Linked DNA regions of Homo sapiens. The protein of the gene in region 1 purifies or fractionates together with the protein of each later gene. This does not show direct contact. Each region holds a gene or a part of one and is shown on either strand. Other genes may lie near its edges.

Region 1 (9,018 bases):
TTCAGAATTTAAGTTTGGGGTATGTCATACCCTATAAATTATGCTACTTCTTTATTCCAGGCAGTTGTCACATTTCTTTTTCTCATTTCCTCCCTGTGCATTGTGTATTTTAAATTCCTTTCACTTTTTTACACCTCTTACTTCAATTTGACACTTTACACACATCCTTAACTCTGTCTAATGCATCTTGCCTTCATTTTTAAAAGTGATGTACCCAGGATACTGTCCTTTTGATCCATCTTTCATTTAAATGAGGCTGTGTATCCTTTCTTTCTTTCTTTCTTTCTTTCTTTCTTTCTTTCTTTCTTTCTTTCCTTTCTTTCTTTTTCTTTTTCTTTCTCTCTCCTTTCTTTCTTTCTCTCTCTCTTTTCTTTCTTTCTTTATTTCTTTCCTTTCTTTCTTCTTTCAACACACACTGCCAAAAAAGAAAAAAAGTAAAGAATCCATTTATTCTGTGAATCAGTGAATTACTAGTCTAGTCTTATTGGGAATAAAGCACATTTTTCTTTTAAATTTTGAATTTAGTTTTTCTACCATTTCAGATATGTAATATTAAGAGGGACAGTGTACCTTAAAAGTACAGATTTGTAGATACTACCTTTTAAAATGCAGAAAAAAAGCTTTCAATATGAAATGCCTGCATTAAATAATTGACTTTTTTTCAAAACAACGATGTAAGTTTACCTCTATATTAAGACAAGCAAATTCCTGTGCTTCCTAGCTATATCTGGAATTAATTAATTATTATTCAAGGTCAACATTTTGCATCTCCCTTGACTGAACTGTAGTTTATTCCACAAAGTAAAGACTTTTTTTTTTTTATGTGTATCTGCTATTAGTTGTTTGCTTTTTTGGGCCAGAGTTACCCATCCTTTCCTGTATATTAAACCACGTTTTTGGCTTTTTCCTTCCTGTCCTTCCCCATCTGGCGATGGTGAGGATGGGTTTTTCTCTTCCATGTTATCATCAGGTGGCTGGAGAGAGATATGTCTACAAGTTTGTGTGTGATCCAGAAGCCCTTTTCTCCATGGCCTTTCCAGATAATCAGCGTCCACTGCTGAAGACAGACATGGAACGTCACATCAACGAGGAGGACACAGTGCCTCTTTCTCACTTTGATGAGAGCATGGCCTACATGCCGGAAGGGGGCTGCTGCAACCCCCACCCCTACAACGAAGGCTACGTGTATTAACACAAGTGACAGTCAAGCAGGGCGTTTTTGCGCTTTTCCTTTTTTCTGCAAGATACAGAGAATTGCTGAATCTTTGTTTTATTTCTGTTGTTTGTATTTTATTTTTAAATAATAATACACAAAAAGGGGCTTTTCCTGTTGCATTATTCTATGGTCTGCCATGGACTGTGCACTTTATTTGAGGGTGGGTGGGAGTAATCTAAACATTTATTCTGTGTAACAGGAAGCTAATGGGTGAATGGGCAGAGGGATTTGGGGATTACTTTTTACTTAGGCTTGGGATGGGGTCCTACAAGTTTTGAGTATGATGAAACTATATCATGTCTGTTTGATTTCATAACAACATAAGATAATGTTTATTTTATCGGGGTATCTATGGTACAGTTAATTTCACGTTGTGTAAATATCCACTTGGAGACTATTTGCCTTGGGCATTTTCCCCTGTCATTTATGAGTCTCTGCAGGTGTACAAAAAAACCCCAATCTACTGTAAATGGCAGTTTAATTGTTAGAAATGACTGTTTTTGCACCACTTGTAAAAAGGTATTTAGCGATTGCATTTGCTGTTTGTTGTTTTATTTTGCTTTATATATGACTTGCAGAGGATAACCATAAAATGGGTAATTCTCTCTGAAGTTGAATAATCACCATGACTGTAAATGAGGGGCACAATTTTGGACTCTGGCGCCAAACTGAGTCATAGGCCAGTAGCATTACGTGTATCTGGTGCCACCTTGCTGTTTAGATACAAATCATACCGTCTTTTAAATATTTTGAAGCCCATTTCAGTTAAATAATGACATGTCATGGTCCTTTGGAATCTTCATTTAAATGTTAAATCTGGAATCAAAATGAAGCAAAAAATATCTGTCTCCTTTTCACTTTCTTCAGTACATAAATACATTATTTAATCAATAAGAATTAACTGTACTAAATCATGTATTATGCTGTTCTAGTTACAGCAAACACTCTTTAAGAAAAATATCCAATACACTAAATAGGTACTATAGTAATTTTTAGACATGGTACCCATTGATATGCATTTAAACCTTTTACTGCTGTGTTATGTTGATAACATATATAAATATTAGATAATGCTAATGCTTCTGCTGCTGTCTTTTCTGTAATATTCTCTTTCATGCTGAATTTACTATGACCATTTATAAGCAGTGCAGTTAACTACAGATAGCATTTCAGGACAAAATAGATGACTCAAACCATTTATTGCTTAAAAAATAGCTTACGCCATGCTATGCTATAAGCAGCTTTTATGCACATTGACAAATGAAGAGTAAGCTTCAGCTTGCTAAAGGAAACTGTGGAACCTTTTGTAACTTTTGGTGATATGGAAAATTATTTACAAACCGTCAAAGAATATGAGGAAGTTGCTGTATGACATAGTGCTGGCACTGATATTATCCATCATCTCTTTTTGGACACTTCTGTAAATGTGATTGGATTGTTTGAAAGAAGATTTAAAGTTTCAAAGTTTTTTGTTCTGTTTTTGCTTTGCATTTGGAGAAAATATTGAAAGCAGGGTATGTTGTTTCATTCACCTTGAAAAAACCATGAGTAAATGGGGATATAGAATCTCTGAATAGCTCGCTAAAAGATTCAAGCAAGGGACATGAATTTTGTTCCATCTATCAATAATATCCAGAAGAACAACTTTTTTAAAGAGTCTATAGCAAAAAGCAAAAAAAAAAAAAAATTCTAAACACAAAGTCAAAATAAACCTATTGTAAAAGCATTTCGTGATGAGCATGAAAAAGATTGTTTAAAGATGATCCCCCCAGCTACCCATTTTCCAAAACTACACAGATCACAGCTCATTTCTCTAAGTGGAGCAGTTATCAAGAAACCCAAACACCAAAATTGCTACTCTTCACATTTAATCCTACAAAAAGTACTCCAATTTCAAAATATGTATGTAACCTGCGATTTCAATGATTGTTGTTCATATACATCATGTATTATTTTGGCCCATTTTGGGCCTAAAAAAGAAAACTATGCCTTAAAAATCAGAACCTTTTCTCCCCACTATGCTTATGTGGCCATCTACAGCACTTAGAATAAAAACAGATGTTAAAATATTCAGTGAAAGTTTTATTGGAAAAAGGAATTGAGATATATAATTGAGATTTGGTGAAATTGAAGGAGAAAATTTAAGTGAGTCTTTAAAATATATTCTGAATGAAAACTGTATTGAGGATTCATTTTTGTTCCTTTTTTTTCTTTTTCTCTTTTCTCCTTTTTCTTCTTTTTAATAGTCTAGTTTTAGTCAGTCAGTGAGGAAGAATTGGGCCATGCTAACGTTATCACAAGAGAACAATGGCAGAAATGGTATTAGTTATATAATATTTAAGGACAAACTATATGTTTTGCTGTTTTAACGTAGTGACTCACTGAACTAAATACATAATTGACCAACATTAAGTGTATTTCCAATACAGAAGGGTTGAAAATATTACATTATAAACTCTTTTGAAAAATGTATCTAAAATTTTTTAAGTTCTGTTTTGATTCCACTTTTTGGTTGAGTTTTTATGTTTTTGTTTTCAGGTAGATTAATAAATCTGGCAGCTGATTTCTGCAAGATTCTTGTGTTTTGAATTTCTCATTGAATTGGCTACTCAAACATAGAAATCATTTGTTAATGATGTAATGTCTTCTCTCAGCTTTTATCTTCACTGCTGTTTGCTGTCTCTTGATGATGACATGTTAATACCCAATAGATTAATTGCAACAAACACTTATACTCAAATAACTAAGTAAAAATAATTTTTCTTGTTATGTCCATGAAAAGTGCTTCAGAATAAAAATCCACAAGACTGACAGTGCAGAACATTTTTCTCAAATCATGGGCGGATCTTGGAGGTCTAGTTTCCCGTAGATGCTGTAACCAATTACCACAACTTCAGTAATTTACACAAATTTATCTTATAGTTCTGGAGGCAGAAGTTCAAAAGAAGCCTTAAGAGACTAAAACCAAGATGTCCTTAGGTCTGGTTCCTTCTGGAGGCTCCAGGGGAGATTCTTCCAGCTTTCACTTCTAGAGTCTGCTGACATTCCTTGGCTCCTGGCTACATCACTTCAATCTCTGCTTCCATGGTCACATACTCTTCTACTATAGTCAAATTTCCTTCCTGCCTCTTATAAGGATGCTTGTGATTACATTTAGGGGATGCTCAGATAATCCAGGACAATCTCTCCATCTCAAGATCCTTAACTTAATGACGTGTGCCAAGTCCCTTTGGCTAGATAATTATTCATAGGTCCCAGGGATTAGGACATGGATGTAAGGGGTGAGGGCAGGGCTGTTATTCAGAACACCGCACGGAGGAGGAAGACTGTGTAGCAAAGACTCTAATTGATTTACTCAGGAACAGTGGAGTTCTGCTGAGGGATCTAGGATTTGAAAGTACTAGAGTTTGCTTTTATTTACCACTGAGATATTTTCCCCTTATTCTGCATAAATAATTTTGAAAACTTTCTATATTAAATTTCAACTATTCCACTAAAATGTCTGGTAATCACATCAAGCCTTTAGATTATTCAAATCCTTCCCCAGCCCCCAGGAAAACACTAAGTCATGAAACAGAAAAACAGAAGGTATGATAATAATAGTAATAACAGTTAAATCAGTGGTCTAATCCAGATTTTATTTTTTAATACATTTCTTTTGGTGTTAATATGGGTTACTATGTGATCTTATCATTTGCTAGTGATTATTACTTATTAGGTAAGAACAATGTGTAAAATATGTCTATTACTCAAAAGAACAATTGCAAAATGAGTCAACTTATCTTTATATAACCAGGAAAGAAATATATTGCCAGAAGCTACAGAATTTTGCCAGATGATAGGGATTTCTAAAATGAGCCACTTTGTCTATCATGCAGCCTTTTCAGAGCTTGTAATGAGAAAACATTACAGAGGAGAAGGTCATTTGGATGTTTGTTACTTGGAATCCTAGAAAACAAAAACTAAAATTTAAAAATAAGAAGTGAGTAAGCTATTTTCCATTTGCGATTTGGTATGGAGAAGAGAGGAAATAGAATTATTAAAAAAATACAAATTGGGTAAAAGTGATGGTGGAAAAAATATAAAGAAGGCAAATGTACATATTAAGCAATTCTACTAAGAATTGGAAAAATCAAGTTTCAAAAAGATGGTAATAGTTGGGCATGATACTAGAAAATTTCACCCAGTTTATTCAGAGCTCAACTAGTACTTTTAGGACTTCTTTTTTTATATACATGAGACTCACTTTGACATACTTAAAAAAAAAACAGTTTATGGAAAGTACAGTTTAAGAGGAGAATTTGATTAGACTAAGTGGATATCTTTATAGAAATATTAATGATTTCAGAATTTTCAGTTACAAGTGTATATACCGTGGCTATTGTTTATGGATTCATATGTAAGGTAGGGTCTTTTTTGCATATAGACTCCAGTATTAGTTACTTTCATTCTAAAATTATATTTATGCTTCTATGGGGAAGAAAATTTTTAATTCACTTGGTTGTATTAAAATTATACTTACGGTTTGAGAAAACATGCTATGAAAATCATGATTATAGCAAATTAAATATGCTCAAAATTTAAATCTAAAATAAAAGCCCAGAAACTGAAAATATTGGACTGTCGTGATCACTCTGAAAGGTAGCACATCTAAAACTGATAAACGTCATCTAAATTTTTGACTGTCTTCTAATCATCGTGTCATTTTTAATAGTTTATGACCACAGCACTCAAGTAATGTGTTTGCACTACTTTGCCATATATTATTCTTTTAGATAATTTAGATACCAGGACACCTGATAAATCCTTTTTGAGTTCTACGTTCTAATCTCTGTAAATATCTTGTTTCACATAAATCCTTCAATAAATGTATCATGGAGAAATTTGGGGAAGGGAACTAACTAAATTATTTCAGTGACTCCCACATGCCAGACAGCACAGATATGTGAATTATGTTACTGCCTCCAAATTGCTTGGTTTTGTCTGGTGAGAAACTGAAGCTAATGGCAAAACCAGTATGTCTTGGTGTCAAGATGTCGTGGTCACAGGCAAATCATGAACCCTACCTTTTGGGGAACTTGGACCTAGCTACTTTTCTGATTTAATTTCTAATGACAAAAATATCTATAATAATAACAGATTCTGCTGAAACACGGTGTTATTTAATTTTTTTTCTTTTTTGAATATTCCTTGTAGAAAAATCTAAAAAGAAATCAAGCACTATTTAAACAACAGCAACAATAAACTGAGTTGTTTTTTAAGTGTTTTTAAGCATTCAGAAATCAAACTGATTGAAGTACCTCTTTGTTTCTTTCCATTGGAGATGGGTACAGCTTAATGAAGAAACAGAAATACTAATCAAACTCTTCAGAAAGTTATATACACTGTCCCCATAATTTATATTATTAGACAGGACTTCTGAAAGTAATAGAATTTTCGGGAAACTTTTAAAGCATGGAAGATTCAAGTCAAATGATTCAGAAAAAGCCAAAAAATTGTTTTTAAAATAGAAAGTAAGACTAAAGGCCGGGCGCGGTGGCTCACGCCTGTAATCCCAGCACTTTGGGAGGCTGAGGCAGGCAGATTACGAGGTCAGGAGATTGAGACCATCTTGGCTAACATGGTGAAACCCCGTCTCTAGTAAAAATACAAAAAATTAGCTGGACATGGTGGCGGGCACCTGTAGTCCCTGCTACTCGGGAGGCTGAGGCAGGAGAATGGCGTGAACCCGGGAGGCGGAGCTTGCAGTGAGCCGAGATGGTGCCACTGCACTCCAGCCTGGGCGACAGGGCGAGACTCTGTCTCAAAAAAAAAAGAAAGAAAGAAAGAAAGAAAGTAAGTAAGACTAGAAACATAGAAATTATTGTATGAAAGAGTACTGTTTTAAATGACATTTCTGCAAAGGGGACTATGGCATTCTTGTACACATTTAAGTAACATTAAAATTATTTGTCTTATAGAAAGTTTAATGTGGGAATTTAATTGGCAATGTTGGTGGGAAGAAAAAAATTAAGATTACACATGTGACATTACTTTTTTTATTTTTATTTTTCTTTGAGACAGGATCTCACTCAGTCACCCAGGCTGCAGTTTCATGCGAACACGGCTTACTGCAGCCTTTACCTCCTCCCAGGCTCAAGCGATCCTCCCACCTTAGCCTCCCATGTAGCTGGGACCACAGGTGTGCACCACTATTCCCAGCTAATGTCTCTGTTTTTTTATAGAGGTGAGGTCTCACAACTTTTTTGACTGTTTTTTGTTTTTTTTGTAGAGATGGGGTATCCCCATGTTCTTATGTTGCCCAGGCTGGTCTTGAACTCCTGGACTCAATTAATCCTCCTGACTTGGCCTCCCAAAGCGCTGGGATTACAGGTGTGAGCCACCATGCCTGGCCATTACTTTTTAAACTGCAAAATACTATTCTACTTTCAGTGACCACAGAACTACTTTTCTTTATTCTTAAAAATATTTGCAAACATTACGTTCTTTAAACAAATATTTTTATACTTAAAAAAACTGCAGTAAAATGTATATGAAATACTACTCATCATTTTAACCAGTTTTAAGTGTACAATTCAGTGTCATTAATTACATTCACAGTGTTGTGCAACCATCACCATTATCTATTTCCAAAGTGTTTAGATTTTTTTATTCATAAAGTATTATCAAAAATGGTCAAGGAGACCAGGTGCAGTGGCTCATGCTTGTAACCCCAGCAATTTGGGAGGCTGAGTCTGGTGAATCGCCTGATGTCAGGAATTAGAGACCAATTTGTCCAAAATGGCAAAACCCTGTCTCTACTAAAAACACAAAAATCAGCCTGGCATGATAATCGGCACCTGTAATCTTAGCTACTCAGGAGGCTGAGGCAGGAGAATCACGTGAACCCAGGAGGCAGAGGTTGCAGTTAGCTGAGATTGCACCACTGTACTCCAGCCTGAGTGACAGCAAGACTCCATCTTTAAAAAATTGTTTTTTAGGGTCGAGCATGGTGGCTCATGCCTGTAATCCCAGCACTTTGGGAGGCTGGGGCGGGTGGATTGCCTGAGGTCAGGAGTTCAAGACCAGCCTGGCCAACATGGTGAAATCCCGTCTCTACTAAAAATACAAAAAATTAGCTGGGCACGGTGGCAGGCGCCTGTAATCTCAGCTACTTGGGAGGCTGAGGCAGGAGAATCACTTGAACCTGAGAGATGGAGGTTGCCGAGAGCCGAGATCGCACCACTGCACTCCAGCCTGAGCAGCAAGAGTGAAACTCTGTCTCAAAAAAAAAAAAGAAAAAAAATGTAAGTAAAAATAAATTTTAAAAATGGTCAAAGAAATGCTTTTTCATATATTACAATTAGTAATTTAAACATGCAAATTTATGCTTTCTAATAATTTAAGTTAATTGTAGTTTACTTACTAATAGGTTGTTCTTGATTTTATATTGTAGTTTAATAGCTTTATTTATTATTATTATTACTTTTTTTTTTTTTTGAGACGGAGTCTTGCTGTGTCACCCAGGCTGTAGTGCCATGGTGAGATCTTGGCTAACTGCAACGTCTGCCTCCTGGATTCAAGCAATTCTCTGCCTCAGCCTCCCGAGTAGCTGGGATTACAGGCGCCCCCCCACCATGCCCTGCTAATTTTTGTATTTTTAGAAGAGACAGGTTTCTCCATCTTGGTCAGGCTGGTCTTGAACTCCTGACCTCATGATCCACCCACCTCGGCCTCCCAAAGTGCTGGGATTACAGGTGTCAGACACCGCGCCTGGCCTGATAGCTTTACTAAGGAAAAAAATGAACACTGTATATAAATAG
Region 2 (11,080 bases), on another chromosome or scaffold:
AAAGATGGGTACACTCACTCAAAACATCAAAGAAGTCACTAGATGATAAGCTCCATGAGGGCAGGGATTTTGTCTGTTATGTCTACTGCCATATCCACAACACCAAGGCCAGTGTCTGCCCTGTGGGAGGAGCTCTGTAGGTATTTGCTGAATGAATGAAGTTATCCAGGAATTAGAAGGAACTCTGTTTTCCAAAAATTATTTCAGAATACATCTGGAATTAAACAAAATTACAGAAAGCTCCAGAAAAAACTGAGGAGAAAGGTTGTATATTCCAGCTCAGTGATCTTCAGAATTTTACTGTACCACCAAAAGATTTTGAAAAATTGGGGGTACCCTCACATATTTTTAAGTCGATTTTTAAATTTTTTTTTCCTGTTACTACTAAATTTAAGCAGTTGCAGAGGATGCTATTTTCAGTGGATATTAAACATTGATACTTAAAGTTATTCCAACACTTTAAAATATAACAAAAGGATGCTAATTACCGTAGTAATTTGGTATTCAAGTATTTTATATGAAAAATTCACAGCAAATTATACCCATAATTGGGAATTTTACATTGTTTCTTCTGATTCTCAAATTTATATGTCTCTTCTGTCTCCCCAACAGAATTGTATGCTAACATATTTTGTTGACCACTAATCATACTTTGCTACATTGAAAATATAATGTATATATACATTGAAAAATTTTTTTTTAATAGTATTTATTGATCATTCTTGGGTGTTTCTTGGAGAGGGGGATTTGGCAGGGTCATAGGACAATAGTGGAGGGAAGGTCAGCAGATAAACATGTGAACAAGGGTCTCTGGTTTTCCTAGGCAGAGGACCCTGTGGCCTTCCGCAGTGTTTGTGTCCCTGGGTACTTGAGATTAGGGAGTGGTGATGACTCTTAAGGAGCATGCTGCCTTCAAGCATCTGTTTAACAAAGCACATCTTGCACCGCCCTTAATCCATTTAACCCTGAGTGGACACAGCACATGATTCAGAGAGCACAGGGTTGGGGGTAAGGTCACAGATCAACAGGATAAGAATTTTTCTTAGTACAGAACAAAATGGAGTCTCCCATGTCTACCTCTTTCCACACAGACACAGTAACAATCTGATCTCTCTTTCTTTTCCCCACATTTCCCCCTTTTCTATTCGACAAAACCGCCATCGTCATCATGGCCCATTCTCAATGAGCTGTTGGGTACTCCTCCCAGATGGGGTGGCGGCTGGGCAGAGGGGCTCCTCACTTCCCAGACGGGGCAGCCGGGCAGAGGCGCCCCCCACCTCCCGGACGGGGCGGTGGCCAGGCAGGGGCTGCCCCCCACCTCTTGGACTGGGCAGCTGCTGGGCGGAGACGCTCCTCACTTCCCAGATGGGGCGGCTGCCAGGCGGAGGGGCTCCTCACTTCTCAGATGGGGCGGCCAGGCAGAGATGCTCCTCACCTCCCAGACGGGCTGGCGGTGGGGCAGAGACACTCCTCAGTTCCCAGACGGGGTCGCGGCCGGACAGAGGCGCTCCTTACATCCCCGACGGGGCGGCCGGGCAGAGGCACTCCTCACATCCCAGATGGGGCGGCGGGGCAGAAGCGCTCCCCACATCTCAGACGATGGGCGGCCGGGCAGAGACGCTCCTCACTTCCTAGATGTGATGGCGGCTGGGAAGAGGCGCTCCTCACTTCCTAGATGGGATGGCGGCCGGGTGGAGACGCTCCTCACTTTCCAGACTGGGCAGCCGGGCAGAGGGGCTCCTCACATCCCAGACGATGGGCGGCCAGGCAGAGACGCTCCTCACTTCCCAGACGGGGTGGCGGCCGGGCAGAGGCTGCAATCTCGGCACTTTGGGAGGCCAAGGCAGGCGGCTGGGAGGTGGAGGTTGTAGCGAGCGGAGATCACGCCACTGCACTCCAGCCTGGGCAAGATTGAGCACTGAGTGAGCGAGACTCTGTCTGCAATCCCAGCACCTCGGGAGGCCGAGGCGGGCAGATCACTCGCGGTCAGGAGCTGGAGACCAGCCCGGCCAACACAGCAAAACCCCGTCTCTGCCAAAAAATACAAAAACCAGTCAGGCGTGGCGGTGCGCGCCTGCAATCCCAGGCACTCGGTAGACTGAGGCAGGAGAATCAGGCAGGGAGGTTGCAGTGAGCCGAGATGGCGGCAGTACAGTTCAGCCTCGGCTTGGCATCAGAGGGAGACTGTGTAAAGGGGAGAAGAGGGAGAGGGAGACCGTGGAAAGGGGAGACAAGAGTGAGAGGGAGCTGAAATTTTTTTTTAATTCTTGTGAACACATGGTTCTAAATGCTAAATTTTATAGTAATCTTTTCCCAGCAATCTTTTGGTAAAAATCAATGAAATTGGGACCCTTATAGGTCAAAATAAATGTTCAAGAATAAAAATGGTCACCAAGGATCATGAGTCATTTCAGGAAAGCCTTTATCCTAAAAGTGACCAACACAAAACAAACAGAATAAAGAATAAAGAGTAAGGAAACAGGTCTGGCATGGTGGCTTATGCCTTTTATCCCAGCACTTTGGGAGGTTGGCGTGGACTGATCGCTTGAGCTCAGGAGTTCAAGACCAGCCTGGGTAACATGGCTGGTCTCCGAAAAAACAAAAAAATTAGCTGGGTGTGGTGGCATGCGCCTGTCGGCTCAGCTACTTGGAGGGGCTGAGGCAGGAAGATTGCTTGAGCCTGGAAGGCGGAGGTTGCAGTGAACCGAGATCAAGCTACTGCATTCCAGAGTAGGTGACAAAGTAAGACCCTATCTCAAAAAAAAAAAAAGAAGAAGAAAAAAAAAACAATGTTACATTCGCTGAATCAATTGAAAGTATAAAAACAGGAACATTCCAGCCGGGTGCGCGGTGGCTCATGCCTGTAATCCCAGCACTTTGGGAAGCTGAGGCAGGCGGATCATGAGGTCAGGAGATGGAGACCATCCTGGCTACCATGGTGAAACCCCGTCTCTTCTAAATAAAAAAAAATACAAAAAAAATTAGCCGTGTGTGATGGCGGGCGCCTGTAGTCCCAGCTACTCGGGAGGCTGAGACAGGAGAATGGCGTGAACCCAGGAGGCGGAGCTTGCAGTGAGCCGAATTTGCGCCACTGCACTGCAGCCTGGGTACAGAACGAGACTCCAACTCAAAAAAAAAAAAAAACCAGGAACATTCCTAGAACAATGAGAAACTTTTGGAAATTTAAAATGTGTTAGATGTAGTGGAGGAACTCTCCAAAAAAGTAGAGTAAATAGATAAGAGAAGGGACCTAGAAGAGAAACATTTAAAAAAAAAATAGAGTACCTGCCTAGGAGGCCAAATATCTGTCTAATTCCTGAAGAAGCAGTGGAGAACACAAAGTGGAGAAATAATGGGATAGATTCCCAGGACTGAAGAACATGAATTTTTAGATTGGCAGGACCATCCAGTTCTGGAGCTGGCTTGTCCTGGCTCATGAGATCTGACTGTTAAACTTTCAGGAATTTTTGCAAGCTGATTGTTAAACAAAGTCGTTATTAAAACTTATTTCCAAATTATTTCCGATTTTACTGTTACTTAGGCTCTTGTGGTTTTTGCATCTATTTTATCTATATGGTGTAAATACTATATAATAAGGTGCTACAGCTCTTCTCTTGGCAACTGCACATTGAGTAATGTCACATTGGTACCTTGGCAGGAAGATTTACACCACAGAAAGCAGGAAGCACTACAAATCATGGCTTTTTTCCCCCAAGAAAAATTAAACCTTTATCAGCGCACCACTGGATTCATCTAGTATCCAGTACAGTCAATGAAAAAGACCCACACACAGAGGCATATCATCATGAAATTTTGGAACATTGGTGATAAAGAGAACATTGTGAAAACTTTGAGAAAGAACATACATTTCACATGTAAAAACAATAAGTCATCATAATGACATCAGACATCAATAATACTGAAAGCTTGAAGTCATTAAAATCATGCCCTCAGAATTCTATGAAAAGGGTGATTTGCAATTTAGAATTCTATATCCAAATAATAGGGTGGAATGGAGACATTTTCAAACCTGTGAAGTCTGAAAAGATTACCTCTCATGTACCTTTTCTAAGGAAGCCTATGGAGATGTACTTCAATAGACCACAAAAGAATGGTATGTAGGAAATAGTCTGACACTGGAGAGAGGCAAAGAGAGTCTTGAGGATAATGATAAAGGGAATTTGCAGAATGACTGTCCACCTGTCAGACCATTTGGAAGCACGAAAGTGGAGGAGTCCAAGAAAAGTGTGTCCAAGGAAAAAACAAAATTGTTAGAATACTGGTAGGTTTGAGTATATTAAGAAGAGATTGCCAGTTTTCCTAGTAGAGTTGTCAGCATAGGCTTCACTGAGGAGGTGGTGGTTGAGAAAGCTTTTGAAGGAAGTCAGGGAGCAAGCCATGTGGATAGCAGGAAGAAGAATATACCCAGCAAAAGGAATAGCATATCTAAAGGCCCTGAGGTAGATCTGATGCATTTGAGGGACAACAAGAAGGCCAGGGTGGCTGGACTGGAGTGAGCGAGGGGCAGAGTACTTGGAAATAGGGTCAGAGACCTGATTTGGGGTGGGGAGGTAGGCAGATACATAAGGCCATTCTATGGCTTTGGCTTTAACTATAGATGAGGTAGATTGTGTCATGTTTGAGCAGAGGAGTGATGTAGTCTCACTTATGTTTTAACAGAGTCACTCTGGCTGTTCTGTTAAGAGTAGAATGTAGGCAGGTAGGGTGGCAGCAGGGATACCAGTTAAGAGACTATTGCAGTGATCCAGTAAGTAATAGCTATGGCATTCTGTTTCCTGCCACTAGGATTTAAGTTCTTTACTGTCAACTGATGTATCCTAAGCACCTAGAAGAGTGTCTGGCACATACCAAGTCCTCTGTGATTGATTATTTGTTGTTTAACAGTGGTGGCTTGGATCAGAGTGGTAGCATTGGGAATAGTAAGTAATTATATTTTCAATGTATTTTGCAGGTTAGAGCCCAATTGATTAATGGAGGATGGTCTATGGGCCATGAAAGAACAAAGTCAAAGATAATTCTAATGTTTCTGGATTGAACAGCTTGCAAGAGAGAGTTGCCATTAAACTGTAAACCTGTGGGTAGAGCAGGTTTAGGGGAGAAGATCAAAAGTTCTGTAAGTAGAGATATCTCATAGTTTCTCAAAGGAGTGTTAGCTGTGTCACAGCCACCTGACGAGTCAAGTACAATAGGGACTGAAAATTAACTTATTGGAGTTAGCAATGTGCAGGTCATTGGTGACCTTGACAAGAGTAGTTTGAGTGAGATAGTAGGGGTGAAAGCCTCTTTAGGGTGGGTTTAAGAAAGAATGGGAGGAGAAAAGTTGGACAGTATGGAAAAGAGTTTTGAGGAGTTTTATTACAATGGGAGCTGAAAAGTGGTGCATTAGCTGGAGGGGTAGGTAGTGTTAGATTTTGTTTTTGTTATTTTTTAGATGAGAGGGAAAAAATGGCATGTTTGCATACAGATGGGACTGATCCTGTAGAGAAGGGGAAACAGTTTAGGAAAGTGGAAGAACTGCTTAAGTGTATGAGAGGGGTTGGGTGCTAGTGCACTGGCAGAGGGATTTGCCTTGCATGGGAGCGCAGAAAGTTATATATGTACAAATGTTGGGTAGATGTGCTGATGGGGGCTTTAAAAAAGTTATCTTCTGCTAACTTCCATTTGTTAGTAACAAAGTAAGCGATGCCATTGGCTAAGAGTGAGCATGGAGGAGGGGAGATGAAATAGTCATGAAAGAGCATGGGAGTCTGGAAGGACTATGGAAATGCAGCATGAGTGCCCTGCAGCATTAAGGGCCCACATAAAGTTCATGGCCATAAGTTTAAAGTGAGCATTGTATGTTTTTTCTACAGCCATGGAGAAAACCAAGTAGTACAGGCACGGAATAGGAAGAGTTGAGCTTAACTGGAGGCTGTAGTTTTTCTAAGCAAGTACCACAAAGCAAGAGAATTTAAGATTGTTGAGGATGTGTGCAACGGAGTGATTTAGTAATTTCATCTATGTGGAAGGAAGGAAGAGAGGATATGATGAGTGTAGGATGGGAAGAAGTTGGTAGAATCAGTGGATTATAGGTCCTGTGGGGGTTAAAGGATTGCTGAAGTTGGGATGAATAGAGGGAGTGAGCTGGAAAGATGGGAGAGAAGATGGTTGGAGAGCGTGACGGTCTACCCTGTGACTAGAGAGGGTTTGCAGTCGTTGGTAATGGTGAGGTTGAGGGTGTGACTGTGGAATAAGCAGTTGAGGTTGAGAGGAGGTCAAGGAACTAGCAGGAGGCTATGGTGCTGTAAAGAACCTTTCTGAGGATTTTGAAATTACCGAGAACTAAGAGAGGTATAGCTGGACAGAGTGACACTGGGGCAGGAACTAAAGTGTGAAGACATCGAAGAGAGTGACTGCTTTTAATCAGTGGGGAGCATGGAGAGTGGAGGTGGTAGGTGCTGTGGAGGAAGAGGAACTGTTTCAACTTGTAGATTATCACAGATGCTTTGATTTGTGGTCATCACAAAGCTGTGAGCCAGCCCCCATCATTTTACCTTTGAAAGCCAGGGAGTCGGTGAGTCAGGCAGGGCTAAGGTGTAGATGAGATGGTGCCAGGTCTTGCTGAAAACCGAAGTGCCCAGGATCTTTTATTTCAGCTCAAATGAAAGGGAAAAAATAAGCTCTATTTGGCCCAAGATTTATTTTTATGATTTATACTGAGGCTGTGAAAATTACTGTCAGTAGGAGTAATGGAAAAGCAGTGTTGCTTGCTAGGCTTTCTTTAGGGGGAGCAGAAAAGTGTTCATGTCCATCTAATACCATAGGTTAATAGTGAAAATAAAAATTACCCCCAACTAATTAATCTTTGTGGTCTCATGAAAGTTAGGAACACTGAAGTTTTTTATTCCATTTGTTTCAGGGATGAGATATTATACTTTTCTCCCAGACTAAAAAAAATTGATATCCCCTTGATTGTTGAACCATATGATATGCTTGAATATAGAGGTTTAAAAAATATATACTGATAGACAGTTGACATTCTTTCTAAGAAGCTGTAGGATAGTGAAAAATAAGGAAAAAATTCAAAATGTCATTATACAACTATTAACATTTTAATGTGTTTCTGCCAGTCTTTGCTTTAAGTGTGAGTTTTTGTTTTCTTTGTGTTTTTAGCCATATTATATAGACAGTATTGTATCCTACTTCTTTTATTTGTAAATGTGATAAACATTTCCCCTGTTACCATATAATCTTTGAAAATGGTAGTTTTCCATTAGCTTTTTAATTTTTTCTTCCTCTATAAACAATGCTGTATGAATGTACACAGAGATTTTTCTGCATGTAGGAGTGATTCCTTAGGGTAAATTTCCAGAAGAATAGAAGTACTTGTCAAAGAGTATTAAATTTAGTTTTGTGGCCAGGCACTGTGTCTCATGCCTGTAATCCCAGCACTTTGGAAGGCTGAGGTGGGTGGATCGCTTGAGGCCAGGAGTTGAAGACCAGTCTGGGCAACATGGCGAGACCCTGTCTCTACAAAAAAAAAAAAAAAAATTAGCTGGGTGTGGTGGCACGCACCTGTCGTCCTGGCTACTTGGGAAGCTGAGGTAGGAGGATTGCTTGAGCCCAGGAGAGGTGGAGGTTGCAGTAAGCTGGGGTTGTGCCACTGCCCTCCAGCCTGGGCAACACAGTGAGACCCTGTCTCAAAAAATAAAAATAAAATAAAATTTAGCATTTGTGACAGTGATGAGAAATAACTGTTCTGTTATTATTTTCAAAGATAAGTCAGATATATGACTCTATGTATGTTACTATTCTTCTAGATACTGGTGTCTCTGCAGGAATATAGGTAGCTAGTTTCCAAATTTTATTTAAACAAACAAAGAATGCGTAATTTATTTGTGAAAGGCTTGCTAGAAGTTGGTGATCCCAAGAAGAGTCAGAGGCTGCTTCTGTTCAGGGTTCTCTGTAACTCCTTCCTAATTCAGTCTAAGGCAATTATTTGGGGAAAATAAGTTCTTGACCTTTTTCCCCAGTTGAGCTGTTATTAGAAAAGAGTAGAAATAGTTGCCATAAACTAGTTATACTCATTTTAAACTTGTTTGTAGAGTCTTTGTTAACTTTTCTAAAGTAGGGCCGGGTGTGGTGGCTCATATCTGTAATCCTAGCATTTTGGGAGGCCAAGGCGGGCAGATCAGTTGAACCCAGGAGTTCAAGACCAGCCTGAGCAACATGGCAAAATCCCATCTCTATAAAAAATACAAAAATTAGCTGGGTGTGGTGGCACGTGCCTGTAGTCCCACCTACTCTGGGGGCTGAGGTGGGAGGAACACTTGAGCCTGGGAGGTCAAGGCTGCAGTGAGCTGAGATCACACCACTGTACTCCAGCCTGGGCAACAAAGCGAGACCCTGTCTCAAAAAAAAAAAAAAAAAAACCCAAAACCCAAACACATTTCTAAAGTAATTTGTTGTTTTCCATTTTTAGTTATATGTTTTGCTTTTTAAAAGTATTTGTAGCTGGCCAGACTTGTAATGTGTGAGAGACAGTTCTATCTTAATTCATTACCTAGGTTTTAATTTGTATTTAAAGAATGAGTTGTTCTTAGACATATATTTGTCAATTTAAAATTCAAGACAGCTTTGTGTACTCACTAACAAAGCCTTCCTCACCGGTCCTTTCATTTAGGTTCAAAGACACTATTATAAATGCCAAGTATGGAGGGCACACAGAGGCAGTACGCCGGCTGCTGGGTCAGCTCCCCATCAGTGCTCAGTCTTACAGCGGTAGCCCCTATCTGGATTTGTCTCTCTTCAGTTATGATGACAAGTGGGTATCTGTCATGGAGCGGCCCAAGACTTGTGGAGATCACCCAATCAGGTACAGTGTCACTGCTATAGCTACAAACTGCTCAAGGGCTGAAGATGGCCTGCTTTCTTTTTCTCTTTTTCTGGACATCATTTGATTGTGACTGTGACTCGTACTCATGGGTAAGGTTGAAAAGGCAGGCTATTTCTATAATGCAGTGAGAGCTGTGATCATTTAGGTGCTAGTCTCCTAAATTATTCCTACTCTTTGCTTCTCATCAGAACATCTAATTCAGATAAGTGTTGTCCTCTTTTAAAGGTATCCAGGGGAGGAAGCTGTACTTTCCCATTTAATAATCTAATACCATTCCATAATAGTTTTTGACATTGAGACTTTATAATTATGTATCTAACACAAATTATTTTATCCCGCCATGTTACCTCATAGAAAAAATAGCAGAGACAATTTGGGGACCTGCTGACAGATTTAGAAGAAACTCATGCTTCCTCACTTGGAGGAATTTTGGAATGTAGACTACTGTGTTATTGTTAGAAGTTTGAAACTGACGTCTTACAAGAAATTCTTTCCTCACAGAAGTCTAGTTCACAGACCCAACTGTCACTACATATATGGAGCCTGTTCTGTGTGCTGTAATAATATTAGGGGGAGGAGCTGGAATTATTGTCACTAGTGGAGTTATCTCAAGGGGGGTGTGTTCCTGAGGCTATAGGCTGGAGCTTGGAAGGTCTTTTTCACACAGAAACAGTGGTAGTTAGATCTTTATGATAGATATATTTCATCATCCAGTCTCATTGTGTATTAAATGTGCCTGTGTGACATAGTCTGTATAATTAATCACCATTTATAATATTTCCTTTGGGAAATTAGAGTCAAGTTCCAAAAACTAGTTAATATTTTTTTTATTATGGAAAGTTTTAAACGTATACAAAAAGTAGAAGAGCATAATAAACCTTCATGTACCCATCACCCACTTCAACAGTTACCAGCTCGTGGCCACTCCTGTTTCAGCTATTTCCATCACGACCCCTACTCCCTCCCCTTCCCACCACTGTCCTGGGTTATTTTAAAGGAAATCCAAGCTATCCTAGCAAAACAAGTAACACCATTACCCCATCTTTAAAAAATTAACAAAAAATCTTTAATATCTTCAAATATCTAGTCAGTTTTTATGTATCCCTGTTGTCTTATAAATATTCTTTTTATAGTTAATTTGTTTGCATCAGATTCAAACAAGGTTCATGCATTGCATTTGGTCCCTTCGGTCTTTTTTTTTTTTTTTTTTTTTTTTTTTTATAAGACGGAGTCTCTGTCTGTTGCCCAGGCTCGAGTGCAATGGCACGATCTCGACTCACTGCAACCTCTGCCTCCCAGGATCAAGCAATTCTCCTGCCTCAGCTTCCCAAGTAGCTGGGATTACAGGCGCCCACCACCACACCTGGCTAATTTTTGTATTTTTGTAGAGACGGGGTTTCACCATGTTGGCCAGGCTGGCCTCGAAATCTTGACCTCAGGTGATCCACCCACCTCAGCCTCCCAAAGTGCTGGGATTACAGGCTTGAGCCACCGTGCCTGGCCAGTCATTTTTATTCTGTAGGTTCTTCTTTCCCCTTTTATTTTCTTTGCAATGAAATTATTGAGGAAACCAGGTTGTTTTTCCTCTAGCATTCTCCAAATTCTAGACTTTGCTTGTTACATCCCTGGGATAGTATTTACTGTATTTCTTATTTACCCATATGTCCTGTAAAGCGGGAATGAGATTTAGAAGGTCAAACAACCCATTTTAAATTATAATCCCTTTGTGTTTGGGGATTGTGGGAGTAAGGCTATGTGTTTTTTATACATAAAAAAGATGGGCCTTATCTGATATGAGTCAAGTACCATGAGATACATTTCTCTCTCCTTTCTGACTTTCCTACCTTTCTAATTGGAGAAGATGAATCTAAAATTTGGAAATGGTATTGCTCCTGAATAAAGGGGTTTCTCTTATAATTCTTCTTTATATTTTTAATTTAAAATGAGAAATATAAGGATATTAACAGCATTTGAAGAGAGAATGCCATTCCTGCAATATCTGTATTGTATAATCCAGTCTAGTCTTTGTCAATATGCATATTTACATTTACACAGTTGTAATCACGGTTAGCATCATTTTTTGTAGTCTGTTTTTATTTTATAAACGTTATTTCATGTTATTATACATAGTCCTCACAATTACAGTCCTAATGAAGGCGTATTATTCTATCAAATAGATGTACC
Region 3 (11,080 bases), on another chromosome or scaffold:
GCATGAACCTGGGAGGCAGAGCTTGCAGTGAGCCGAGAGCGTGACACTGCACTCCAGCCTGGGCAACAGAGTGAGACTCCGTCTCACAAAAAAAAAAAAAAAAAAAAAAAGAAAAAGAAGAAATGTGGATATTCAGTCCTTCAGGAGTTCCCCAGAGGGGACAGTCAGTCTACCCCGCATGACACCAAGGACTTCCTCAAGCTGGTCAGATGAAGTCCCCCTGTTTTTTGTCTTACTCGAAATACCTTTCAGCAAGGAAAATGGGTCTAGAGTTTGCTACCATTGTGTCCATCTCGCAGCCACAACATTGGTGGCAGTACCCACTTACTGAGCCCTGGCAGTGCATGACCTAAGCACAGGACATGGATTGTCTTATTTACTTCTCTTGGGCTGTGGGGGAAAGATTACTAGCTCCCTTTTACCGATGAGGAACTAGAGACCTGGAGAGGGTAAGCAGACTGCCCCAGGTCCCACAGCTAAGACAAGGTGGCTGGGGCCTGAACCCAGCAGTCTGAGGTCAGAGTCACTCTTAGCCATCATGTGACTGTCGGGAGTACTGCATCCCGACAGTCCTCTTTTCTGAGAAAAGAGGAAAGCAGGAAGGCACTTGAGGAAAACAGGTGTCCTGGATACACAGAACCTGTATGGCCTCTGGAGCCTGCCAAGATTGACCTCTTTCTAACTTCCGCCATCTTAGATATCAAAAGGGGGTTCTGTTGGTGATTACTGGAATCTGGGTGCCATGGATTCCCATTTTTGCTGCTTGAGCACTGGGCTAAGAGGGCCCTTGGGCTCTAAATGCCCAGACCTGATCTGAATCCTTTGCATTATGATCAAAGCATTAAGCCTTCACCTGAGATGTTTTAGCTTCAGCCTCTTGCTGGTCCTGGCATTTGGCACACAAGAGGCTGCACAGTGCTGACCTGCCCCATGGTCTAGGCTGCCCAGGCCTCAGTCCTCTCTGGCCCGCACATGCAGGCTAATTCCAGGCTCCCTCACTGGTTTGAGTGTCCCACTCCAGAGGAGAGTCCCAGGCCCTGGCCTTGGCCCTGCCAAGTTCACAGCCAAGCCCTGCGCTACCCCCTTGCCTCCCAGGACCGCACCTGTGAAATCGTTGAGGACACAGAATCCAGCCGGATGGTTAAGAAGATGAAGAAGCGCATCTGCCTCGTCCTGGACTGCCTCTGTGCTCATGACTTCAGCGATAAGACCGCTGACCTCATCAACCTGCAGCACTACGTCATCAAGGAGAAGAGGCTCAGCGAGAGGGAGACTGTGGTAATCTTCTACGACGTGGTCCGCGTGGTGGAGGCCCTGCACCAGGTGAGGCCACACCCTGCTGCTGCGCCTTCTGGCCACAGAAAGCCACCTTTCTTGCTGCTGCTGAGCAGAAGGCAGCTCTGTCCTGTGCACCCAGGTGTGCTTTGCAGCTGGGAGTGTCCAAAAGAAGAGTGACTGAATGGCAGGTGCACAGGGTGAGGCACAGTGCCACCCTGCAGGCCACCTTCCTGGTGAGGGCTGACCTGCAGCCCAGCTGTGGTAATTACCACAGCCAACTGTGTTAATTCCCCATCAGTTAAGAGGCCTGGTGTCCACCCCCATGTAGTGATGACAGTGAGATACCCACCCAAGCAACTACAGCACATCTGAGCTTTTTGTAGGATTAGAGGTGTCAGGCACGCTGGGACAAAGGATAGGAGAGCCTGAGCCTCTTCCCGGTGTGCCGCTTCTGTGGGCCGAGCCTGTGGTACTTAGTCACAAAGCCATGACAGCTCCTCCCCGACCCCCAGATCCATCCTGTCCATGGAATGTCTAATGGAGGGGAAAAAATGAGTGACTTTCGCCACCAGCCACTGCCCTGAGGGGAGAAAGAGCTAAAGAAGCTGCCACAGATGGGGAGACACTGACTAGGTGCACATTCATTCCCCATCCAGACGCGCAGGTCACGCGAACTTAGAACTGTCCTGATCTGCCTGTGCTTGGAGCCTAAAGAGACACATCATAGAATTTTTCCTGCCTTCTCGAACACCTGGAGAGCCCCCATCTTACAGGGTGGGCCCTGACCCCACCTCTCACATTGACAATGTAAACCATACGCCTGTTGTTTTACAGAAAAATATCGTGCACAGAGACCTGAAGCTGGGGAACATGGTGCTCAACAAGAGGTAAGATCCCTGTCTCTACATCCATACAGTTACCCCGGGGCTGGGGCAGGCTACACATTGCAACTCTCCAGTGCCCTGAAGTGTCCTCATGAGGATTCCGACTCAAAACAACCCACTTCCTCCAGGAATCCCAGGGCTCGGGATGGGATGAACATGGGAATTGGGGGCTTGCTGAGACTGGGAGTTTTGAGCCACAGAAAGGGAGCTCTGGGAAGAACTTTAGATCTCCCTTGTCCATTTATTTGTCACACCTGGCTCCTAGTGGGTACTCATAAAATTACTATAAAAATGGACTAAATGGTCAGGTGCGGTGGCTCCCGCCTGTAATCCCAGCACTTTGGGAGGCTGAGGCGGGAGGATCACTTGAGCCCAGGAGTTTGAGACCAGCCTGGGCAACATAATGAAGACCCCATCTCTACAAAAATATATATATTTTTTGAATGGACAAATGGGGTGAAGGAACGAGCAAAATGATGCCTTGCCATAGGTCAATTTCCTCAGGAAACAGACTCTGAGGTTTACGTGCAGAAGGTTTACTGTGAAGTGCTCTCAGGGTGAGGGGGTGGAATTAGGCAGAGGGAGAAGCTGAACCGCAGTGAAGTCCCAGCAGGGCCTCAGCCTGAAAAACTCGAGAGTGGGATGGCCTGCAGATGGCCCGCGCTTGGCCTTTGTGCCCCCACAGCAATCAGTCACTGAATGTCTGCTGTCCTTAGGGAGGGGCATTCTCTTAGGCAAGGCAGCTTCTTTTGGCTAAGAGGGCCTCCTGGAGAGGGATGCAGCTGTGAGTGGTTACCTGTAAAATGCCACCAGCTCTCTCAGCAGCAAGGAGAGCATGCCTTAGACTTGGAGGGGATCTGGCGGCCCACCCTTGTTGGGGTGAACCAGCAGCAGAGGGACACCAAGCACGGCCCTGGTTTCAGGTTGTCATCCCGCCTCGACAGAGGGTCCTGGGCCTCTTTGGAGTGATCTGGGACAGTGCTACCACTGTCTCACCATGTTAGAGGGACCACCAACCATGTAGGAACCCAGGACCAGCAGGAAGTGGGCCCACTCTGTGGGCTACCATGATCCTTGAAATGCAGGGCTGAGAAGGGCACATCTCCCCCACTCCGCCCCCACCCATTATTTCTGAGCTCCCCTCTGTCACCTCTCAACTCGGCATTGAGCAGGTTGAAGGGCTTACAAAGGCAGCCTGAATCTCACAGCAGAAGTGTTGTGGTGGGTGATTCATTCCATGATGTGGCCAGCCCAGCCCAGGAAGGGCCCGAGGCCCACTGTCCTCTAAAGAGGCCAAAGCCACAGTGGTCAGAGGAAAAGAAGCTGCCTGGAGGTTGGCCTCCGGGGAGGGGGCATTGCCTTGTGCCCCATCTCAACTGATGGGGAATTACTGCTGGGGGTTCCAGATCCCATAGCTCCAGCCTGAGAGGCCATCGGGACGATGCTGTGCACCTCAGCTGCTAAGCATTCTCCATCCTTCGACTAGCACCACCTGGTGCTGGGGCTGCAGACAGAAACGCTCAGTGGTTCCCACTACCCTCTGGAGCCCACCATCTGATGGTGTACTGACCAGAAGATGGTATCATGTGTGGAGGACTGGCGTGCAGAGGGCAAGGGACATGTGGAGGGACAGTGGCTGCCACCTGAGTCAATTCGTGAAGGATGAGTTGGGATTTGCCAGGCTGAGAAAGTGAAGGGATGAGAACCTTGCCCTGCTATGCTCTGCAGGGGGAAGGGAGGGAAACAGGAAATTCCAGAGCTGCTTGAACCCTGGACTGGCTGAGTGAGTGAGTTGAGGAGGACGGAAGCAGCACTGACATGGGGGTCAGACCTGGCTCACTTCCCAGTGCCACTTCTTCGTTATCTTGGAGACCGTGAGAGTGTGGTCCTCTGGGTACTTACTGATTGAATTCATATATTGAGGTACCAAGCACTTCTCTGAGCTTCCATTTCCTCATCTGTGAAAGTGAAGGTCATCCTGGCTTCCTGGGAAGATTGGCCTGAGATGCAAATCAGTGGGTGTGAGGCTGCGTAATATGATGGGGTTTGGCGCATCACGGGCACACCCCAGTGCTAATGTAGCCAGGACTGGAGAGCCTGTCGCTGAGAGACAGGAGAACAGGACCCATGGGCTCACATCTCTGGAGATGAGGCCTGCTGCATGTTGAGTGGCCAACGAGGACACCCCTGGTGAGGGCCCAGCGGTCCCCCAGCCATAGCTCTGCATCATGAGAGGAGGTGGTGGGGAGCCCCGAGCAAACCAGCCCTGGGCTGTGGAGAGCCAGTTGTCATAAAGTTGGGAAATTGGGTCCTGCCCCTTCCCCTGGCCCTCTCTGGGGCCTTGGGCCAGTCCCATCCTGCTGTGGACTACAGGCTTACTGTTCACAAAGAGAGAGCATATTTTTTGGGCACCTAAATCCATCTGGCTGCAGAGCCCATGTGCCCTCCAGCTGGACTAGAGAGCTCCCAGACCTTCCACAGCAGCCATTCATTGGCTGTAAATGAACATCCCAGGGTTGTCATGGGAACTTGCCGGGCTCATGCCTGCTAACCACACCAGCACTCCTGGCCCTTTGTGTCACTGGGGGATTTGCTTCCAACTCTCACTTCCCCAGGGCCCCTTGGTCCTGGGAGTGTAGTCGAGGGGTCGCACCTCCCTGCATACGCCGGCGTGGCTGTAGCAGCTCTGCTGTGAGTGTGAGTGCGTGCTCCTCAGGGTGCAGAATGCCAATGCCTCACTCATACCCAGTGTCCTGGTTGTACTTCCTGAATCTGATAAATCCCCCTTTTTGTGTCTCAGGGCAGACAGAGGTTCTGGCTGCCTTTTACTTGAGTCATGGGCGCTCCAGAGTGGCAGGGTAGTGTGGTGCAGAGAGACTCACTGCTCCGTGTGTGTCCTCTGGCACACCCTCCGCTCTGGGGCCCCACTCTCACCTCGTTCAGTTGACCTGAAGGAGCTCCAGCCCACTCCAGCCCCTTCCCACCCATCATGCCAGGCTATAACTCCACTGGAGCAGTAGGCGGACCAGCTGGAGGCCTTCTCAGCAGAGCAGAGAGCTCTCAAGGAGCAGACAGGGGGAGGTGTTGGCAAGGCAGCTGCAACAACAAGTTCACCCCGCTTTGGATTTTAAAAGGATCGAAATTCGAAATCCTCTTCTGGGGTTATGTGAGGTGCTGTGGGGTCTTTTTCCTTCCTCCTTTCTTTTTGGTAGGCAAGCAACATACCAAGTTCCTAGAAAAGGAGAAAAACACTGTGGCAGCCCAGAGGGCCATAGCTAAAGCGTGACTCACTCAGAGCCGATCCTACTGACACACGTCCCCTCCCTCCGTCCCACTCTGCCATTGCCCCCTCCTGTCAGGACCAGACTAGGGGGTCTGGGACTCCCGGGGAGCCATGCACCCCCCACTTGGGTGGTGGTGGCAGGGCAGGGGAGTGTTGCCAAACCTCAGGAGGACTTGGAGCTGCCCGTGCCACTTCCTGTGGAGAGACTCCAGTGCGCCTGCCGCTCAGCCCTGCAGAGCCTCAGCTGTGCCTGCCCGTGCCCTGGCAGAGGGTGGGAAAGTCCCACCAGCAGTGTTGAGTTGAAAGCTCAGCCACACTGGCATGTGCTCTCCGGGGCCTGTTGTCACACCATGGCACCTCTCCCCTACCGCCTCCAAGACAGAGTCTTTTCCTACCAGGTGTGCCAACCATCGGAGATGAGAGGACACCAGCTTCTACTATTTGCCAGGCATTGGGCTAAGTGCCCTCCATGAGATTATCTTATCTTGCTGAATCCTAACCCAGTTCTGGAGTTTGGTGCTGGGATTTCACTGTTGTACGCATGAGGAAATTGAGGTTTAGCAAGAGATTCACAGAGCAAGGAAGTGGCAGAGCCAGGACTAGGAACCTGGCTCCCAAACCCACCGTACTTTCTCCTGAGCTGTCCTCCTCTCAGCGTCTTGAGCCTCAGAGACCCACAGGATGCATTTGCAGCTTCCGCGGCCATCTCTGACCAGGGGAGAAAACCCACAGTGCCTCTGCTCTGTGGGAACCTTCTGGACAAGAGGCCCGAGCAGCCCCATATTCAGGGCAGCGGCACTGGAGCTTCAGAGCTAGAGCAGCCCACTCCTTGACGTGCAAGTGACCCTTTGCAGTGACCCTTCACCTGTGCGATCAGGCTCTAGCCGCCTGCGGGCCACCAGTCAGACTCCTATGGCAGCTGACAGGGCGGACCTGTATAGGCGCTGGAGTTGGCGTTTCCGTGGGGAATCCAGAGGACGGGCTGGCCTTTGTTTTGCATCGAGCCCTTTGCCAGCAGAATTCCCCGAGATCACCGAGGGCTCTCAGAGCCGCCTGGATGCGGCTCCCGGGGAAATCCGCCAGCAGCCACACATGCCCTCTGCCTCTGAGAGCTGATTGTAGGGAGAGGCAGCCCAAGGCCCCCATGGAGCTCTCCTTCCTGTTGTCCTCCCAGCTTCTCCCCCTAGCTTCTCCACCCAGCCAGCCGACACAGGAGCAGGGCAGTTGGGTAGAGAGGCATCCTTCCTCACTGCCTGCCCCAGTGGGCCAGGAAACCTTTCCCAGGCCTCTTAGACAGGGCCTGCCCACCCTCCCAGCCCCCAGTGTGGTGTAAGGTGTAAGGGTCCTCTCGGGGCACTTCCTTTTGTCCACATGTGAGTTTTCTCCAAAGGATCAGAGCCCAAAGCTGCCCTGCCCCACGCCTTTCAGAGGGAGGGTCTGTGATGTTCTAGCCAGGGCAGAGTCACAAGTACGAGGTAAGGGATGAGTCAGCTTTGATGGAACAGAAGGAAAAGTCATTCGGGGCCTGGGGCCCTGCCCAGGGACACATCTGGGCATGAGGCAGCTGTCAGTTGTGTGTGCAGCTCTGGGGCCCTGCAGACCTGGTCTTGGATCCTGCTCTTCTGCTCACCAGCTGCATGACCTTGGCCAAGTCCTTTCACTTCCCTGTGCCTTTGTTGTATCATCTGAAACAGGACCGTGAGAAAATCCCCCTCATTGGCCACTGTCAGTTTCTTCCTCTGCAGTGGTTGTGGGGCCAAGTGAGAACTGACATATTCCGTGGTTCGGAGGTGGCTCGGGGCCAGCCCTTGGGTCACCTTCCAAGGTGGAGTCACTCACCTCTGCTGGACTTCCTTTTCCTCATGTGTGAATGAGGAAATTGAACTAAATCTCAGGTCACTCCCAGTCTAGAATATTACGTGAGGCTGTTTTTGAGAAATCTCTGAAAGTTGTTCTAAGCCCTAAGCTGTACCCCGAGATTCAGCCCGGGCAGCAGGTCCAGGGATGGCCTGTGCAACACTCAGATACCTGGGAGAGAAGCCGATCCCTGCTGGGACAGCTCGGCTGGTGGCCAGAAAAGTCTGGGGCCTGATTCCTCTGCTCTGCTCCCTGGAGAGGGGGTCGGGGCAGCTGCTTCACCCTCTGACGAGAAGCCTACCTCCTACTGTTCAGGATTGGGTGTTGGCCCAGTGAGGTGTGTCCTGCCTGCGTGTCTTGTGCCTGTTGCTATAGACACTGAGGTTTGTTCACTCTGTCTCCCACTCCTAGGACACATCGGATAACCATCACCAACTTCTGCCTCGGGAAGCATCTGGTGAGCGAGGGGGACCTGCTGAAGGACCAGAGAGGGAGCCCTGCCTACATCAGTCCCGACGTGCTCAGCGGTACGTGTGTGTGCCAGACATTGGGCCTCTAAGCTCAATACAGCCAGGCTCTGTGACAGTCCACTCAGCAAATTTGTGGGCAGGCCCTGGGCAAGGTGCTGGGGCTTCACTGGGGGCCCAGACCAGTACTGTCCCTCCCCATACAAAATGTTTGGTCTGTTGGAGGTGGAAGACGTAATGATAACATGAATGCATGTTTAATTCCTCTGAGGTTAGTGCTAGGGAGGAACGGGATTGCTGTGAGAGTGGATGAAGGGTGCTTGGAGGACTTTCCCCACAAGGTGTGACAGTTGAGCTATGATCTTAAGGGAAACTAGGAATTCCCTGGGTATGTGTGACTAGGCTGAGGCTGAGGGTCCCAGAGGCAGCACAGCACGTTGGAGCAATTGCAGGCTGCTCAGAAAGTGAGCCTGGTTCAAGGGGAAGCCAGAGAGGTGCGCAGGGGCCAGATCAGGCAAGGCCTGACATAGGCCTCAGTAAGAGATGTCATCCTTTACTTCAAGTGCGAGTGGAAGCCATTGAACAGTTCTTAACTGAGTGTGCTGCTGTGAGTTTGTGTTTCAGAGCCCTCTCTCCTTGTCTGTGTTCATTCATTCTGTTACTGTTTGCTGAGGGCCACCCAGGCCCAAAGCTCTGTTCTAGACACTTTGGAGACAACAGGGAACAAAGTAGACAAACATTGCTGCCTTCATGGAGCTGACTTTCTAGTGGGGATGAGACAGATAATACACGAAACAAATAAGTAACTCACAGGCCGGGTGCAGTGGCTCATGCCTGTAATCCCAACACTTTGGGAGGCTGTGGCGGGATCATAAGGTCAGGAGTTCGAGACCAGCCTGGCCAATATGGTGAAACCCTGTCTCTACTAAAAATACAGAAATTAGCCGGGCGTGGTGGCGGTTGCCTGTAATCCAAGCTACTCAGGAGGCTAAGGCAGGAGAATCGCTTGAACCCAGGAGGTGGAGGTTGCAGTGAGCCGAGATTGTGCCACTGCACTCCAGCCTGGGCAACAGAGCGAGACTCCATCTCAAAAAAAAAAAAAGAAAAAAAAAAACTCATAAAGTTACTGCCCACTGATCTGATTTCCAAGTTCCAGACACTGTGCTGAGCGTGACTCGCGTTATCTGTTTAAACCACACAGCTACCCTGTGAGGCCAATATCTATCTTAAGTCCTTTTTTCACAGATGAGGAAATTGAGGCTCAGAGAGATGACATCTCTTGTCCAAAGTCGTAGCTAATAAATAGTAAACTGGAAAATGGAGGCGCAGCCCCAGGGCTGCCTCCCACTAAAGCCCATTCTCGCAACTCTTTCACTGTCGACTCTGTTGCTTTCTCTTTCCCCCTTGTCCTTGGCCCAAATCCTTTAGGGAACCGGGGCTTACACCAGCTCCCATCCCTCCAACATGGAGAACTTGGGGTTGTCTCCAAGATCCTTCATCCCCACCCCACACATGAGTGCGCCCTTTCCGTGCAGTGGCCGAGCCAGCCTCGTCCCAGCTCTTCACACACATCCTGGTGAGCAGGCTGCTGTAATACAAGCACTTACAACTCCCTCGGAGGCTCCCCCAGCTGCCGCTTCTGCTGGAGAGCCAGGCCTGTCCCCAGGGCTGCCCGTGTGCAAAGACAGTAGCACCATTCCCCAGACCTGGGGGTTTTGGTTAGAGTCACTACAGCCTCTGCTAGAGGGAACTGGGTGCCAGGGGTATACCCTAACTCCTGGGGCACCACCCCCATGGCCCAGCACAGTCTGGCACCCTCTACAGTAATCCCCAAAGCATCCCCATAGGAGATAGAGCCAGGCTCCTCCTTCCACCCAGCCTGTGAGTGGGGCTGTGCCTGTTTGCAGGGCTCAGGCTGTGGGCTAGCCCTGGATGGGACTCCTCTCTTGCAGCACCAGCCTAGAGTGGCCTTCATTTGCAGTCTGAGGCTCTGTGGCCCTCCCTGCTGTTGCCAGCAGCCTATCCTTCTGGTTCTTCCAGACTCGTGCCAGTCTTGGAGGATGAAACAAAGGAATCTGACTGAATCAGAGAGAATCCTCGACTGGGAGACCAGAGACCTGGGTTCTCATTCTGGCCTTGCTGTTGAACCAGCTGTGTGATCACGGCCTCCAATCTCCTTCTGACTTCAGCCTCCTCCCTCCTGGGTTAGAAGCTGAAGTACCAGCCCTACCATGTGGGTTTCCGACCCAGGTCTGCCCTTTCATTTATTCTCCATGTGCCCAGCATGGGCATGGGGCATGGAGCTGTGAAAAGGCAGGCCTGGTCTGGCCCTCATGGAGGTGATAGTCTGGCTAATAACCATGTGAATTTGGGGGAAGTTACAGACCTCTCTGAGCCTCCATTTTCTCATCTGTAAAATAGGGATGGCAGTAGTAGTACTTGAGGGATTAAATAATGCCCTTAACCAGCCAGGCGCGGTGGCTCATGCCTGTAATCCCAACATTTTGGGAGGCCGAGGCGGGCAAATCACGAGGTCAGGAGATCGAGACCATCCTCGTTAACTCAGTGAAACCCTGTTTCTACTAAAAATAAAAAAAATTAGCCGGGCGTGGTGGCGGGTGCCTATAGTCCCAGCTACTCGGGAGGCTGAGGCAGGAGAATGGCGTGAACCTGGGAGGCGGAGCTTGCAGTGAGCCGAGATCTCACCACTGCACTCCAGCCTGGGCAACAGAGCAAGACTCTGTCTCAGGAAAAAAAAAAAAAAAAAATATATATATATATATATATATATGTAATGCCCTTAACCTAGTGTTTGGCATGATCGTTGCTGAAAGGGAAGCTTGTGGGTACAGTGTCCCCTCAGAAGCCAAAGCCCAGGGAAGGTCGCCTGCCCAGGTCAGGCTCCCAGCGAGTTTGTCTGGGGAGGGGCCATTCATACCTCCAGGTCAGGACAGAGGCTCGGGCTGAGGGAACCCTACACAGGTCCTGGAAGCAGATCCTTCCTGCCTAAGCCAGCAGGACAGCTCAACAGGAAGCATCTTCCAGCCACGGGAGGAGAGGCAGCACCTTTTTTGGAACCATACAGAGCTAAGAATGGTGGTACAAGTAATAGATTCTGTACTGGCAACCCCACTTGGTGGAGCAAGTTCTAGGAAAAGGGGGCTGTCCTTGAGTCAGCCATGGGGTCAGCCACACAGTCACCGCAGCTGCTCTTTGGCACCGGGCGCTGGAAAGAGCCTAGGATGACACAGCCTGGAAAGAGCTTGGGAGAAGCTCATCTTCCACAGAACTACCTGCTATACCAGCCAGGG

What was found.
Region 2: the proteins of ETV1 (region 1) and DET1 purify together in Homo sapiens (affinity purification with mass spectrometry; 3 studies listed by BioGRID and IntAct, with this or other methods). This does not show direct contact.
Region 3: the proteins of ETV1 (region 1) and STK40 purify together in Homo sapiens (affinity purification with mass spectrometry; 3 studies listed by BioGRID and IntAct, with this or other methods). This does not show direct contact.

Annotation. Positions count from the first base shown.
Region 1 is NC_000007.14:13,888,040-13,897,057, reverse strand, and holds the end of ETV1 (ETS translocation variant 1), read left to right. Parts: intron 1-970; coding exon 971-1,192; 3' UTR 1,193-5,829; downstream 5,830-9,018. UniProt on the Homo sapiens protein: Transcriptional activator that binds to DNA sequences containing the consensus pentanucleotide 5'-CGGA[AT]-3'. Required for olfactory dopaminergic neuron differentiation; may directly activate expression of tyrosine hydroxylase (TH).
Region 2 is NC_000015.10:88,514,577-88,525,656, reverse strand, and holds part of DET1 (DET1 homolog), read left to right. Parts: intron 1-8,683; coding exon 8,684-8,875; intron 8,876-11,080. UniProt on the Homo sapiens protein: Component of the E3 ubiquitin ligase DCX DET1-COP1 complex, which is required for ubiquitination and subsequent degradation of target proteins. The complex is involved in JUN ubiquitination and degradation.
Region 3 is NC_000001.11:36,345,449-36,356,528, reverse strand, and holds part of STK40 (serine/threonine-protein kinase 40), read left to right. Parts: intron 1-1,095; coding exon 1,096-1,323; intron 1,324-2,112; coding exon 2,113-2,165; intron 2,166-7,713; coding exon 7,714-7,829; intron 7,830-11,080. UniProt on the Homo sapiens protein: May be a negative regulator of NF-kappa-B and p53-mediated gene transcription.